Linked DNA regions of Homo sapiens: region 1 is linked to region 2. Evidence: fine-mapped expression QTL. A gene starts in region 2. The other region holds a variant in brackets. All regions are shown on one strand. Distances are between the middles of the regions.

Evidence for each region.
Region 1: its variant is fine-mapped to the expression of TRPM4 in whole blood (TOPMed, PIP above 0.99).

What each region holds. Positions count from the first base shown.
Region 1 is chr19:49,195,817-49,204,135 of GRCh38, reverse strand. It overlaps TRPM4 (transient receptor potential cation channel subfamily M member 4), which reads right to left. Exons shown (of 25, transcript NM_017636.4): 17 at 7,262-7,696; 18 at 3,704-3,836; 19 at 3,351-3,525; 20 at 1,995-2,172. Among named protein-coding and RNA genes, the nearest start is that of TRPM4, 42 kb to the right of the region's middle. RefSeq lists a silencer at 7,051-7,377. The variant T/C (reference allele first, on the strand shown) is at 3,629.
Region 2 is chr19:49,154,684-49,162,967 of GRCh38, reverse strand. TRPM4 (transient receptor potential cation channel subfamily M member 4) reads right to left here and starts at 5,176. Exons shown (of 25, transcript NM_017636.4): 1 at 5,078-5,176; 2 at 4,709-4,776. The coding sequence starts at 5,101. HRC (histidine rich calcium binding protein) reads left to right here and starts at 7,572. Exons shown (of 6, transcript NM_002152.3): 1 at 7,572-8,284. The coding sequence starts at 7,731. RefSeq lists a silencer at 3,951-4,137 and an enhancer at 4,821-5,442.

The sequences.
Region 1 (8,319 bases), 41 kb before region 2:
GTGGTCTTCTTTTTTTGAGATGGAGTCTCGCTCTGTTGCCCAGGCTGGAGTGCAGTGGCACGATCTTGGCTCACTGTAGCCTCCGCCTCCTGGGTTCAAGCGACTCTCGTGCCTGAGCCTCCCAAGTAGCTGGAATTACAGACATGAGCCCAGCTAATTTTTGTATTTTTAGTAAAAAGGGGGTCCTGCCACGTTGGCCAGGCTGGTCTCGAACTCCTGACCTCAGGTGATCCACCCGCCTAGGCCTCCCAAAGTGCTGGGATTACAGGCATGAGCCACCACGCTGGGCCCAAATGTGGTCTATTTGTACAATAGAATATTACTCATTCATAAAACGGAATGAATGAAGTTCTGATGCACACTACAACAGGGATGAGCCTTGAAAACATGCTCAGTAAAATCAGCCAGACACCAAAAGACAAATATCGCATAATTCCACTTACATGAAACATCTAGACTAAATCCATAGAGACAGAAAATACACTGGAGGTTACTAAGACCTGTGGGGAGGGGAAGTGGGGAGTTGCTGTTTCATGGGGACACACTTTCTGTTCTGGGTGATAGAACGTATTGAAAATAGATAGTGGTGATGGTTGGAGAGTACTGTAAATGTAATTAATGTCACTGACTTGTACACTTAAAAATGGTAAAAATCAACTCCGGCCGCGGTGGCTCATGTCAGTAATCCCAGCACTCTGGGAGGCCAAGGCGGGCGGATCACAAGGTCAGGAGATCGAAACCATCCTGGCTAACACGGTGAAACCCCATCTCTACTAAAAATACAAAAAATTAGCCAGGTGTGGTGGCGCACGCCTGTAGTCCTAGCTACTTGGGAGGCTGAGGCAGGAGAATCGCTTGAACCTGGGAGGTGGAGGTTGCAGTAAGCTGAGATTGCACCATTGCACTCCAGCCTGGGCGACAGAGCGAGACTCCATCTCAAAAAAAGGCGGGGCGCGGTGGCTCACGCCTGTAATCCTAGCACTTTGGGAGGCCAAGGCGGGTGGATCACGAGGTCAGGAGATTGAGACCATCCGGGTTAACACGGTGAAACTCCGTCTCTACTAAAAATACAAAAAAATTAGCTGGGCGTGGTGGCGGGCACCTGTAGTCCCAGCTACTCAGGAGGCTGAGGTAGGAGAATGGCGTGAACCCGGGTGGCGGAGCTTGTAGTGAGCTGAGATTGTGAGATCGTGCCACTGCACTCTAGCCTGGGTGACACAGCGAGACTCCGTCAAAAAAAAAAAAAAAAAAAAAGAAGTAAAAATGGAAAATTTTATATAATTTTACCACAATAAAAAACAAAGTTGGCTGGGCGCGATGGCTCACACCTGTAATCCCAACACTTTGGGAGGCTGAGGTGGGCCAATCACTTGAGGTCAAGAGTTCAAGGCCAACATGGTGAAACCCTATCTCTACTACAAATACAAAAAATTAACTGGGTATGGGGGAGTGGGAAGTGGAGGTTGCAGTGAGCTGAGAACTTGCCACTACACTCCAGCCTAGGTGACAGATTATCCCAGCACTTTGGGAGGCTGAGGAGGGAGGATCACTTGAGTCCAGGAGCTCGAGACTAGCATGGACAACATAGTGAGACCCCTCTCTCCAAAAATTTTTTTAAATTAGGCAGGCCTGCTGGCCTGGCTAATTTTAAGTAGTCCCAGCTACTTATGGGGCGAAGGCAGGAGGATTGCTTGAGTCCAGGAGGTCGAGGCTGCAGTAAGCTACGATCACATCACCACACTCTAGCCTTGGCGACAGAGTGAGACCCTGTCTCAAAAAAATACAAATAAGGAAGTTCAACCTGGGCTCAGGGAGAGGATCAGTCCAAAGTCCAAATTACAAGCAGGGTCTGGTTGGGTTTGGGGAGAAGGCAGCATTAGATTGGATCAGAGTTCAGGGACTAAAAACAGAATTCATTAGACGGGGTTCAAGAGTCATGAGAGGGCCACGGGTCATGCTGGGTGGGGTCAGATCAGAGAGCAGTCAGGCCTCACCTGAACATGGCAATGAGCAAGTTGACCAGCAGGATGTTGGCCACGAGCAGGAAGATGACGAGGAGCAGCACCACCAGCCAGTTGGCATACTGGGAGACGCAGGTGCCCGCCTGGGCCCCAGGAGGGTGTGCCCAGAAGCCGGGCTCCGACGAGCAGTTGCTGTGCTCCATGAGGGCCACTGTGAAGAGAGACATTCAGAGATGGGGTGAGGGGGACAGAGACCTAAGAAAGACAGGAAGACTGCCGGGCGCGGTGGCTCACGCCTGTAATCCCAGCACTTTTGGGAGGCTGAGATGGCCGGATCACCTGAGGTGGGGAGTTTGAGACTAGCCTGACCAATGTGATGAAACCCCATCTCTACTAAAAACACAAAACTGTTAGCCAGGCGTGGTGGCACGCGCCTGTAGTCCCAGCTACTCGGGAGGCTGAGATAGGAGAATCGCTTCGATCTGGGAGGTGGAGGTTGCAGTGAGCTGAGATCGTGCCATTGCACTCCAGCCTGGGCAACAAGAGCAAAACTCCATGTAAAAAGTAAAGTACAGGTTCCTCTTCAAAGACTTTCCTCCCCATCTAATTAACAATAAATAGTAACTTCTCTTAGAAACAAAATTTATTCAAACACCTGTGCTAACATTCTTAAATATCTACTAGCCATAAAAAATAAATCAATGTACTTTATGTTCTTAGCTCTCACAATTTAGCCTAAATATTTGCCCTGACATACTTATACTGGTTCAAGCAAGCATTAGATCATAGCCTGTTCCTCTTCCTTATTTAAAAGTGTTTTTACCTTTCTCAACATTCCACAAGTTACTTCCTCCTTCCTTTGTTCTCCTCTGCCTTCGCTTCTTTTAAAAACTTCTAAGTTACTAGCCAATCAAGACAAATACAAAATGTAAAGTCCGGTTCCAGCCAATAAAAACCAGACACAGCAGTAAAATAGACGCGTCAGGTTATAAATGACCCTATCTCCTTTGTTCCGTGTACTCTCATGACAAAACTGCTGGCGAGTGTACCCTTTCTACAAAAAATAAAAATGGCTTTACTAAAAAAATTAAATTTATGTTCAAGTACTATTTCTTTACGACACCACAAAATAAACATTTCTAACATCCATCTCAAAAAAAAAGAAAAAAAAAAAGAAAAAAGAAAGACAGACAGAAAGACAGAGGGGGTGGGGTAGGCAGAGACCCAGAGAGATGATGATGGGGAATATAGGGTATCACTCAGAGATCCAGAGAAAGAGGGAGACAGAGACTCAGAGAGACAGATATTTTCTTAGAGCCAGGAGGACAGAGACCCAGGGAGCGGGGACAGAGACTCAGAGGAAGGCTGTCAGGCCGTCATCCCCCCTACCGTCCATGTCCTCCTGGGGAATCTGCCCGAAGATCTGCAGGTAGGGACGGTAGAAGACGCGGCGCAGGATACTTGGGAAGTCACTGTCCCGTGGCCTCAGGAGCCCCTCCGTGGCCACGCCATAGGCTACCAGCCACACGCCGAGGAAGAAGAGGAAGAAGAACACGTCCTTCATCTGTGGGGAGATGTGGCTGAGTCTGGCCCCGCCCTTTCCTACTCTGGCCCCACCCCTATATCCCAAAAACACGCCCCATTGCTCCCCAAAGTCACGCCCCTTC[T/C]CCACGGACCACTCCCTCCCTGGCCCCACCCCTTTCCCTATGTCCCCGCCCACTTTGGCCCCGCCCCTGCCTCACCATCTTGCTCACGATGACGATCTTGGGCCCCAGCTGTTTGTTGACCGTGAAGATGTGAAGCAGCCGCACCGTGAAAACCATGAAGTCGATGCAGAGGACAGTGCGGCCCAGGTGGTACAAACCCGGGGTCAGCCTGGGGTGTGGGGAGATGCCACAAGGGTCAAGTGTCACAAGACGCCAAGGAAAATGGAAGTCTTCCCAATGCCATCCTTCAGAGGAAGCTGCAGCCTCCACCGGGCAGGACCAGGACCCTCCCAGTCACCCGGGGTTTACTCAAATTTATTCAGTACCAAGCTGGTCCATGCAGGGCCCTGGCACCCATTTTTAAAATGGCTGCGCCTATTAAGTAATGACTGAATGAACGATGGCCTTAGCAAAGAGCTGGTCCCTGTAAGAATCAAGCTGGAAAAACTGCCGGAATATCTGTCCAACCTATAAAAGGCAAAACATATAGAGTCCTTACAAACTAATACGCAAAAGGAAGGAAGCCAGATAAAGGATACCACGTACAATTCACAGAGGACGTTCAAACGGCCAGTAAACATCAATAATTCCTATGGGGAAAATAAAAATTCTACCCCTATTTTGCATCCTCATGTACTTAAACTTTGGATGGATTAAAAACCTAGTGTATGGACAGACGCGGTGGCTCACGCCTGTAATCCCAGCACTTTGGGAGGCCGAGGCAGGCTCAAAAAAAAGAAAAGAAAAGAAACATACAAAAGTGAAAGTGAAAAGACAAGCCACAGACTTCGAGAAGATATGAAGATATTAAGACCAACAAAACTACCGAGGATTAGGATCCAGAGTATAAGGAGTATATACATTTATACATATACAAATCAATGAACCCCAATTAAAAAAACGGGAGGGTGGCCGGTCGCAGTGGCTCACGCCTGTAATCCTAGCACTTTGGGAGGCCGAGGCGGGCGGATCACGGGGTCAGGAGATCGAGAACATCTTGGCTAACACGGTGAAACCCCGTCTCTACTACAAAATACAAAAAATTAGCCGGGCGTGGAGGCAGGCACCTGTAGTCCCAGCTACTCAGTAGGCTGAGGCAGGAGAATGGCGTGAACCCGGGAGGCGGAGGTTGCAGTGAGCCGAGATCGCGCCACTGCACTCCAGCCTGGGCTACAGAGCGAGACTCCGTCTCAAAAACAAAAACAAAAACAAAAACCAAAAAAAAAACAAGGGGGCACAAGGACATATGGCCATTAAGCTTAGGAAAAGATGTCCAACCTATCTGGTAGTCAAGAGTGCATAAATTATAACAAGGAGAGGTCATGTTTACCCATTAAATTGGCAAATTTTTTTTCAGTTAAATTGAGAGCTACATTTTAGAGTGAAAGTATCAGGCATTGTCGAGCATGGCCTCAAGGGGGCACTCTCTTACCCTGATGGCAGGTGTGGAAATGAGTGAAGCTACTTAGAAGGAAATCTATCCATGTCAAAAATAAATGTACCCTTTGACCCATAAACTTTACATCTGGGATGTAAACTTTTATTATTTTGGAATAATAAAAAAACAGAAGGCTGAGCATAGTAGCTCACGCCTGTAATCCCAGCACTTTGAGAGGCCAAGGTGGGAGGATTGCTTGAGCCCTGGAGTTTGAGACCAGCCTGGGCAACAGAGTGAGACCCTGTCTCTATTTAAAACAAAAAAAGAAAGAAAGAGAGAACCTAAATGTCCATCTAGAGGGAACTGGCGAAACAAAGGATGATTCATCCATTCAATTCCGGAGATGATTAGACATTTCTCCCTTTTTTTTTTTTTTTTTTTTTTGACAGAGTTTTGCTCTTTTCACCCAGGCTAGAGTGCAGTGGCATGATCTTGGCTCACTGCAACCTCCGCCTCCCAGGTTCAGGCAATTATCCTGCCTCAGCCTCCCGAGTAGCTGGGATTACAGGCGCCTGCCACCATGCCCGGCTAATTTTTTGTATTTTTAGTAGAGATGGGGTTTCACCATGTTGGGCAGGCTGGTCTCAAACTCCTGATCTCAGGTGATCCACCCGCCTCGGCCTCCCAAAGTGCTGGGATTACAGGCATGAGCCACCACGCCAGGCCCGTTTCTCCCTTTTAAGCTGAGATCTTTCCATTTTTCACCTGGAAAGTGGTAGGCTTGATAAACTGTCCAAAATATCACTGGCAATCCTAGAGCATGGTAGCATATGGCCTTAGCCCTTTCATCTCAAAAGTCACTTTATACAAAATACAACAAATTACAAACAGAAGTATTAGTGTTCTGCAAAACTCTCATATCTTGCTCCCTGCTTGAATAAATTATTTATGTTGAATCACTTTGTAACACTGCTAACATAGCTTAGAGGAAGCCTGCCTCTCAGCGTGTCTACTGGGAAAAGCTTGAGTAGGGATCATCACTGTCATCACTGTCAACCATTCAGGATGTGTCAGGTCCCTTGTAAACAGTCACCAGGTTGTTGGCCAGGCACGGTGACCCACATCTGTAATCTCAGCACTTTCAGAGGCTAAGGCCAGTGGATCACTTGAGGCCAAGAGTTCAAGACCAGCCTGGTCAATATGGCAAAGCCCCATCTCTACAAAAAAAATACAAAAAAAATTTAGCTAGGTGTAGTGGTGCATGCCTGTAATCCCAGCTACTCACGAGGCTGAGGCAAGAGAATCGCTTGAACCCAGGAGGTGGAGGTTGCAGTGAGCCAAGATCGTACCACTGCACTCCAGTCTGGGCGACACAGCGGAACTCTGGCTCAAAAAAAAAAAAGAAAAGAAAGAAAACAAAAACAAACAAACAAACAAAAAACCAGTCACCAGGTTGTATCCACAAACTTTTCTGTTTGCTCTCCTCAAAAGGAGGAGTATCCTAATGCAGGATACTCCATAATGCAGGCAGGGCAAGGGTTAAACCCTTAGCTTGGAGGGATGGAAGGAAGCATAGAAGGAAGGAAGGAAGGAAGGAAGGAAGGAAGGAAGGAAGGAGGGAGGGAGGCAGAGGGGCAGAGGACAGAGGGAGAGAGAGAGAAAGAAAAGAGAAAAAGAAAAAGAAAAGAAAGGAAAAGAAAAGAGAAAGAAAGAAAAGAAAGAGAGAGAAAGAAAGAAAGAAAGAAAGAAAGAAAGAAAGAAAGAAAGAAAGAAAGAAAGAAAAAGAAAGAAAGAGAAAGAAAGAAAGAAAAAAAAAGGAAAGAAAGAAAAAGTCGGGGGCAGGAGGGCAAGGGGCCTGGGACCAACGAGCTATGTGGAGGAAGAGAAGGGAGGAGGTGAGGTTGGCACCCAGGTCGGGGCGCTCCCATAAATATCTGTTAAACTTCAGGCCTAGCAATAAATAGCAGCAGAGGCTGAGTGGCGGACAGTGGGGTTTTCTCCTGAATCCTGCCGTCCCTGAAGCCAGATCTCCAGGTGCCAGCCAATTACCCTGGGGCAATCGTCATGCCCGACTTTCCTAAGAGGGGTTCTCAATCAGCAGGGTTGGCTTGACCTGCTGCCCAGCTGCGGGGAAGCCGGGAGTGGAGACCCCGGGAGTGGGCAGGAAGGATGAGAGGTGGCCAGGGGCCAGGGTTCCAAGGCCCCGGGGCACTCACCGGCAGCCCACGCCCAGGAGGAAGCAGGTGAGAGCCACTAGGTCGCACTGGTTCCAGCTGTCGGCGAGGTAGAGGCGCAGGCGCTGGCTCAGTGAGGCATGGCCAGGCCCGGGGCCCCCGCTGGCGAGGCTGCCCCCGCCTCCGCTCAGGCCCTGGCGCAGTTCCTCGCACAGCAGCGTGAAAGCCCAGAAATAGAGCAGCAGCTCCAGGGAGCCGGGCGGCGCCGGCTGGAAATCCACGAGCAGCACCCGCGAGAAAAGCAGCAGGAACAGCAGGTAGCTGACCACGTTGCCCATGAAGATGGTCACCGGCGCGCCCCAGAAGTGGAACCAGCGGCGTAGGCACCGGCGCCCCCCGCAGCGGCCCCCGCAGCAACCCGGACGGCCCGACTGGCGCGGGACCCCCAGCGGCGTCTTCTCGGCTGGGTCCGCCGTCCTGTGGGGGAAGAGAAGAGAAGGGAGGAGGCCTCACTCTGACCTCTGAGTCCTGATCTCCACCATCATCGAGACTTTTGGCTTGGCACATCTCACCCTGCCTGACCCGAAACTCAGTCTGCCCAGAGCTAATTTCTTGGGTTTTGACTCTTGTATCTAACCTCTGACCTCTGAAATCTCCGGTCAAGAGGTGGATTGATCGCTTGAGCCGAGGAGTTGGAGACCAGCCTGGCCAACATGGCAAAACCTCATCTCTACAAAAAATATTTTAAAAATATACCCGGATCGGGCGCGGTGGCTCACGCCTGTAATCGCAGCACTTTGGGAGTTAAGGCGGGCAGATCACCTGAGGTAGGGAGTTCGAGACCAGCCTGGCCAACATGGTGAAACCCTGTCTCTACTAAAAATACAAAAATTAGCCGGGTCTGGTGGCGCATGCCAGTAGTCCCACATACTCGGGAGGCTGAGGCGGGAGAATCGCTTGAACCTGGGAGGCAGAGGTTGCAATGCACTGCAGCCTAGGCGACAGAGTGAGACTCTGTCTCAAAAATAATAATAATAATAATAATAAAATAAATAAAAATAAAAATTTAGCCAGTAGTAGGGGCAAGCACCTGTAGTCCC
Region 2 (8,284 bases):
CAACATGGTGAAACCCTGTTTCTACTAAAAATACAAAAATCAGCTTGGCATGGTGGCGGGTGCCTGTAGTCCCAGCTACTCGGGAGGCTGAGGCAGGAGAATGGCATGAACCCGGGAGGCGGAGGTTGCAGTGAGCCAAGATTGCACCACTGCACTCCAGCCTGGGCGACAGAGCGAGACTCCACCTCAAAAAAAAATTCAGTTTCTCAGGTACAATGGCCATATTCCAAGTGCCCAGTAGCCCCCTGTGGCCAGGACTGCCATATTGGATGTAGACATAGAACGTTTCCAAAATCGTGGAAAATTCTGACATTCAGTGCTAGGAGCCATTCCTTCTGCACAGCTTGCCTCCTACACTCTTTCCTCGGTGGAGCCACAGAAACTGAAATAAATTGTTTTTTTGTTTGTTTGTTTGTTTTGTTTTGTTTTGAGATGGAGTCTCGCTCTGTCTCCCAGGCTAGAATGCAGTGGTACGATCTCAGCTCACTGCAACCTCTGCCACCTGGGCTCAAGCGACTCTCGTGCCTCAGCATCCTGAGTAGCTGGGATTACAGGCATGTGCCACAGTACCTGGCTAGTTTTTGTATTTTTAGTAGAGATGGGGTTTTACCACATTGGCCAGGCTGGTCTCAAACTCCTGACCTCAAGTGATCAGCCCACCTCGGCCTCTCAAACTGCTGGGATTACAGCTGTGAGTCACTGTGCCTGGCCTGAAATTGTTCTTGATAAAAATCATCAATTTCCTGCCTGGCTCCATATACAACGGCCCTTATTCAGGTTTCATCTGACTGTATCACAAGTGGCCCTGGCTACAGCTGAAAGGCTCTCATTCTGGAAACCCTCTCCTTGGCAGGATACCCCTGCCCCTCTGGCCTTCCTCCCCGCCCCGGCTGCTTCATGCCTGACTTGTTTGTGGCTTTCTCTTGCTTTTCACCTCCCTTGAGTGTAGGTGTTCCCAGTGCAAGCCTTCCCTACATGATTCTCAAACCCAATGTGTGCAGAGGCCAGTCAAGTAACTCAACAGAAAGAAGTAGCCAGGGCCAGGAGCAGTGGCTCACACCTGTAATCCCAGCACGTTGGGAGGCCCAGGTGGGCAGATCACTTGAGGTCAGGAGTTCGAGATCAGCCTGGCCAACATGGTGAAACCTTGTCTCTACTAAAAGTACAAAAATTAGCCAGGCGTGATGGTGGGTGCCTGTAATCCCAGCTACTCGGGGGGCTGAGGCAGGAGAATCGCTTGAACCCAGGAGGCAGAGGTTGAAGTGAGCCGAGATCGCACTACTGCACTCCAGCCTGGGTGATAGAGCGAGACTCCGTCTCAAAAAAAAAAAAGAGGTAGCCGGGTATGGTGGCTCTCGCCTGTAATTCCAGCACTTTGGCAGGCAGAGTGAGGTGGGAGGCTCACTTGAGTCCAGGAGTTGGATACCAGCCTGGTCTGGTATCAAAGGGAGACCCGGTTTCTACAAAAAATTTTAAAATTAGCCAGGCATGGTGGTGCATGCCTGTGGTCCCAGCTACTCCGGAGGCTCATGTGGGAGGATCGCTTGAGCCCAGCAGGTCAAGGCTGCAGTGAACCATGATCGTGCCACTCCAGCCTGGACAACAGAGCAAGACCCTGTCTCAAAAAAAAAAAAAAAAAAAAAAGAGAGAGAGACAGAAGACAGATATTTTTAAATGCTCTTCTAAACACACACACACACAAACACACGCACACAATTGGCTATAGAATTGCCAGTTTGCAACTCCCCTGACTTTACACGTTGTTTTCCCTGTGACGTCTTACCTACTTCCAGTTTCAATTACCAGCTACAACTCGGACCTCTCAGATTCTGGACATTAGTCCAGACCTTTCCCAATCTCAGTCCCCACATGCCCCTCGGTCCCCCTAGGCCGCTCATATGCACAGATTCCCACATTGCACTCAGCGACATTTCCCAAACCTGCTTGCCCTCCTGAGCTCTCCATCTCAGGGACAGCCCCACTGTGTCCCAGTCAGCAGAGCATACGTCCCGGAGCCATCCACCGATGGCGGCACCCCCTCTCTCCCTCATCACCCTCATCAAGCCCCAAGCTCTGCCTTCCTGCCCCCTGAGTCTTTGCCCCATGCCCTCCTCTCTGTGTCCCGAAAGCCCTGACCTGGCTCAGGCCACTACCCCTCCCGCTCAGACGCTCTCTACAGCCTCCTCCCGAGCTCCTGTTCATCCTCTCCCAGCCCCAGAAAGTTTTTCCACACCCAGAGCCAACCCCACTGCTGCGGTGATGCCCCAGCTCCCAAGGACAAGATCCCAGCCCCTTAGGGTGGCCTCTGACACCCTGCAAGCTCTGGCCCTGCCCTCCTCTGCAGCCTCTTCTCTCATGACAGTGCTCCCTGCACCCTGAACTTTGATTCATATTCAAGCCAAACCATATGGTCCTTAGCAAGGACTTTGCACATGCTGTTCAAATCACTTTTTTCTTTCTTTCTTTCTTTTTTTTTTTTTTTTTGAGATGGAGTCTTGCTCTGTCACCCAGGCTGGAGTGCAGTGACGTGATCTCTGCTCATAGTAGCCTCCGTCTCCCAGGTTTAAGTGATTCTCCTGCCTCCTGAGTAGCTGGGATTACAGGCATGCGCCAATACGCCCAGTTAATTTTTGTATTTTTAGTAGAGATAGGGTTGCACCATGTTAGCCAAGCTGGTCTCGAACTCCTGACTTAGGTGATCCACCCGCCTCGGCCTCCCAGATTGTTGGGATGACAGGCGTGAGCCACAATGCCCGGCCCCAAATCGCTTTCCATGGGCCTCTCTCCAGCTCACTTTCAAATGTCACCTCACTAGCCACTCTTCCTCCCTCCAGAAACCATTAGTGACATTTTGTGTCCCCTCCCAGTCTTAAGCAAACACCTCCTCCCAGCTCTCACAGAGCCCAGTGGCTCGTCTTTGGGAGCTGCAACCCCTTGCCTTACTATAATTATCTTCTGCGTTTCTTCCTCCTCAGGCCAGACCAGAGTTTCCTAAATTGTCTTGACCACACTGACCTATCAGTAAAAAGGTTTTGAGCACTCACGTCCAACAAGCGCATATCTGTTTATTTATCCATCATTTACAAGCCATACTGCACTAATATATAGTCATAACAAAATACACACTGAAGTAGGAATGTGGATACTTCCCGCACCCCAAAAACTGTCTTGAAAAACAACTAGAGGGCTGGGCGCGGTGGCTCACACCTGTAATCCCAGTACTTTGGAAAGCCAAGGCAGGTGCATTGCCTGAGATCAAGAGTTCAAGACCAACCTGGGCAACAGGGTGAAATCCCGTCTCTACTAAAATACAAAAAATTAGCTGGGCATGGTGGTAGGCACCTGTAATCCCAGCTACTAGGGAGGCTGAGGCATGAGAACTGCTTGAACCCAGGAGGTGGATGTTGCAGTGAGCTGATATCGCAACACTGCACTCCAGCCTGGGCGACAGAGCCAGACTCTGTCTCAAAAAAACAAAAAACAAAAAACTAGAAAGCCTGGGCCAGGTGCGGTGGCTCACACCTGTAATCCTAGCGCTTTGGGAGGCCGAGGCCGGCGGATCATGAGGTCAGGAGATCGAGACCATCTGGCTAACACGGTGCAACCCCGTCTCTACTAAAAAAAAAATACAAAAAATTGGCCCAGCGCGATGGCTCACGCCTGTAATCCCAGTACTTTGAGGGGCTGAGGCGGGCGGATCACAAGGTCAGGAGATCGAGATCATCCTGGCCAACACGGTGAAACCCCGTCTCTACTAAAATACAAAAAATTAGCCGGGCGTGGTGGCGGGCGCCTGTAGTCCCAGCTACTCGGGAGGCTGAGGCAGGAAAACGGCGTGAACCCGGGAGGCGGAGCTTGCAGTGAGCCGAGATCGCGCCACTGCACTCCAGCCTGGGGGACAGAGCGAGACACCGTCTCAAAAAAAAAAAAAAAAAAAAAAAAACTAGAAAGCCTGGATCCGCTTGAGAGGCCGTCACTGAAGGGCGGGAGCTCCTCGCGGACGCACACACCCTATCTAGCTCAATTGGTGTCCCCGGCCACCAAGACAGGGCCCGCCCGCGGTAATAATTGCCACCTCCCAGTGGGAGCTGCAGATATTTCCCAGCGTCCTGTGCTGGGCGCTGTGCCAGGAATATCACAAGCATTAACTTGTTTAATTCTCATAATAACCCCAGGAGATCAAGCCTCTTTTGATGCCCAGATGAGAAACGGGACCCAGAGAGGTGAAATGATTTGCCCGAAGCCACACAGCACGTGTCCCAGGGGAAATTGGAACCCTGGCAGGGCCGTTGAATTAGGCTAAAGGGACCTTGGGAGCGCTGAGTGAGGGTTTCTTGCATGGATGGATGAATGAATGAATGAATGAATGAATGAATGAATGAAACAGAAATACCCAAAAGGGAAAGACAGAGACACAGAAAGTGACACGAAGAGACAGAAGCACATAGAAGAGACATCGGGGAGGAAAGAAGCAGAACCGAGCCCTGGAGCGTCTACACTGACCCTGAGCGGGAGAATGGCGAATGGGGAATGAGGGGTGTCTACACAGACCCAAACGCTCCTAGAGGGAGAGCGTCGGCAAGGAACGCCCTTGGGAAGGTCCCCGAGTCCAGGAATGGGGAAGGAGCAGGGCTGGGGCGTGACCATCCGCGGGCGGGGTCAGCGGGCCGCGGACCCTCTGGGGTCAGTCCAGGGGCGAACTCCTCACCCCGGATCTGTGGAGTCAACTATGAACGTCGTGCAGGTCTTCTTCTTGAAGATCTTGGGGATCCAGCTCTGGGGACAGGAACAAATGTAGGGGTGGAAGTGGGGTGAGAGGGCACCCAGTTCTGTCCTATGGGACACAGAGCCACCCACCCCGTGCGCTCCCCACGGACACAGGAGTCCGGGCCCCCAGCGCCCTCCCGCTCCAGACTCAGGAGTCTCGACCCCCATGCCCTGGACCCTGGAACCTGGACCCTCCCATCCCCCTCCTCCGTCTGACCCAGGAATCTGGGTGTCCAGCGCCCTCCTCTCTGGGAGCCTGGAGGCGAGGTCCCCAGCTCCGCGCTCCCGCAGACCCTGGTCCGGCGCTCACCTGCTCCTTCTCCGGCACCACCATGCTGCCGCGGCCGCCGCAACCTCCTGCAGCCCAGGGCCCCGGCGCTCCCTCCGCCGGCTCTGCTTCCAGACCCGCCCAGAGCAAACCGGATCCTCCACTTTCCAGCCTAGCCTGGGGCGGGGCGAGGTCTGGGGGGCGGGGAGTCTTGGAGACGCCAAAGCGGGAGGCGGGGAGAGGGCGGGTCCCAGGCCGCGATAAGGGGACAGAGGGACAGCGACCTGGGGGGTGCAGAGGTCCGGGCCGGGGGGAGAGAGACACACAGGGGAGACTCCAAGGGCAAGCGCGAGATGGGAACAGAAGGAGTTGGGGGCCAGTGGCGGAGAGGGAACAGACTCAGAAAGGAGGATGCCAGACAGGGAGGGGACAATTTAACCCAAAGAGGGGGAGACAAAGACTTAGGGGACAGAGAATCAGAAGGTGGGGCAGCAGGGACCCAGGGATAGACAGAGAGAGAGGGGGACAGAGACCCACAGAGAGAGGGGGACAGAGACCCAGGGAGAGGGGACAGAGACCCAGAGAGAGTGGGACAGAGACCCAGAGAGAGTGGGACAGAGACCCACAGAGAGAGGGGGACAGAGACCCAGGGAGAGGAGGACAGAGACCCAGAGAGGGGGGGACAGAGACCCAGAGAGGGGGGGACAGAGACCCAGGGAGGGGGGGACAGAGACCCAGGGAGAGGGGACAGAGACCCACGGAGAGGGGGACAGAGACCCAGGGAGAGGGGACAGAGACCCAGAGAGAGGGGGACAGAGACCCAGAGAGAGGGGGACAGAGACCCAGAGAGACGGGGACAGAGACCCAGAGAGAGGGGGACAGAGACCCAGAGAGAGGGGAACAGAGACCCAGAGAGAGAGGAGGACAGAGACCCAGAGAGAGGGGGACAGAGACCCAGAGAGACGGGGACAGAGACCCAGAGAGAGGGGGACAGAGACCCAGAGAGAGGGGAACAGAGACCCAGAGAGAGAGGAGGACAGAGACCCAGAGAGAGGGGGACAGAGACCCAGAGAGGGGGGGACAGAGACCCAGGGATGGGGGGACAGAGACCCAGGGAGAGGGGACAGAGACCCACGGAGAGGGGTACAGAGACCCAGGGAGAGGGGACAGAGACCCAGAGAGAGGGGGACAGAGACTCTGAGACAGAGGGGGACAGAGACCCTGAGAGAGGGGGACAGAGACCCAGAGAGAGGGGAACAGAGACCCAGAGAGAGAGGGGGACAGAGACCCACAGAGAGAGGGGAACAGAGACCCAGAGAGAGGGGGACAGAGATCCACAGAGAGAGGGGGACAGAGACCCACAGAGAGAGGGGAACAGAGACCCAGAGAGAGGGGGACAGAGATCCACAGAGAGAGGGGGACAGAGACCCAGGGAGAGGGGGACAGAGACCCAGAGAGAGGGGGACAGAGACCCAGGGAGAGGTGGACAGAGACTCTGAGACAGAGGGGGACAGAGACTCTGAGAGAGAGTGGGGACAGAGACCCAGAGAGGTGGATGCCAGAGATGGGGAGGAGACACCTTGACTGAGGCAAGGGGCAGAGGGGGATGCAAAAACCAAAGAATTGGGGGAAGGGCAGGAACTCAGAAAGGAGGGGCCAGAGATTTAGGGGAGAGAGAGGGACACAGACTTGGGGGAGGACTGACACTAAGATAAGAGTGGGACAGAAGCCCAGAGTGAGAGGGAGAGGCAATCCCATGGAGGAGGGACAGGGACCCTGAGAGAGCAGATGACAGAATTGAAGAGAGAGGAGGACCCGTGAACAGGAAAGGAGACCCTAGTGGGGGCAGTCATGAAGGGTGAGGAGTAGGAAATACTGACACACAGAGACGGGCAAGGCCACTTGTCTCCTGCCAGCCCTCTGTGATGGGGACAGCTGTGGCCTCCGTAACCTGAGTCCCCCTACCCCTCCCAGCTGTATTTATAGCCCTGGCCTAGCCCAGTCCCTGCCCCCAGATCTGAGTTCCAGGGACAGGAGGTCATGGGCACGTGTGTTGGGGGCCATGTTCCTTTCCCCCCATTCTAGGGCCTCAATACTGACATCACTCTCTCACCAGCACGTATCATTCCAGCTGGAAACACCCCGCAATCGAACCCCCAGTCCTTCCGTCCCAGGAGTCTCTCCCCTCTGATAAGTCTCTTCTGCCTCCCCCAGGTGCCCCAGGCTCCCCCAAAAACCTGCTAAAAGTCTAGCCTTTGTCTTTGCAGCTGCCAAACGTGAGCTTGTTGGTAGTTCAAAGTCAAGTCCCTTGGCCACCGTCTCCTGGCCAGGGAGAGACCCCTCACTGGTCCCCTCCCCAGCTGGGAGGAGGAGGAGCAGGAGGCAGGCAGGCGGGGACTGACCCAGAATAACTCAGGGCTGAGAGTAAATTTAGCTGGAGAGAGGGGAGGGGAAGGACCCTATTGGCTGGGGAATGGGGAGGGAGGGCCCCAGAGGGGGGTCAGGGGGCTCCGGAGACAGCCTCAGAGGGGTGTCCAGAGCCAGGCAGCAAGGACCAGAGGAAGGTGGACAGAGACCGAAAGGACAAAGGAGAGACACAGAGAAAAAAAGAGACCAACCCCAAAGGGACAAAGACCCCAACGTTTGTCCACATTGCCGCAGAGGCAGCTGGAGCCAGTGCTGCCTGTCCGTCCCCATGGGCCACCATAGGCCATGGCTGCACGCTTCTGTCCTCTGGGCTGGGGTGGCCAGCCTGCTCCTCCCCCCGGCCATGACCCAGCAGCTCAGAGGGGATGGGCTAGGCTTCAGAAACCGGAACAACAGCACTGGAGTCGCCGGGCTCTCCGAGGAGGCATCAGCAGAGCTTCGCCACCACCTCCACAGCCCTAGAGACCATCCAGATGAGAACAAGGATGTTTCCACAGAGAATGGGCATCATTTCTGGAGCCACCCAGACCGTGAAAAGGAGGATGAAGATGTCTCCAAGGAATATGGGCACCTACTCCCAGGCCACAGGTCCCAAGACCACAAAGTCGGAGATGAGGGTGTCTCAGGTGAGGAGGTCTTTGCAGAGCATGGTGGGCAGGCCCGTGGGCACAGAGGCCACGGGAGTGAAGACACGGAAGACTCAGCTGAGCACAGGCACCACCTCCCCAGCCACAGGAGCCACAGCCATCAAGACGAGGATGAGGATGAAGTTGTGTCCAGTGAGCATCACCATCATATCCTCAGGCATGGACACCGAGGCCA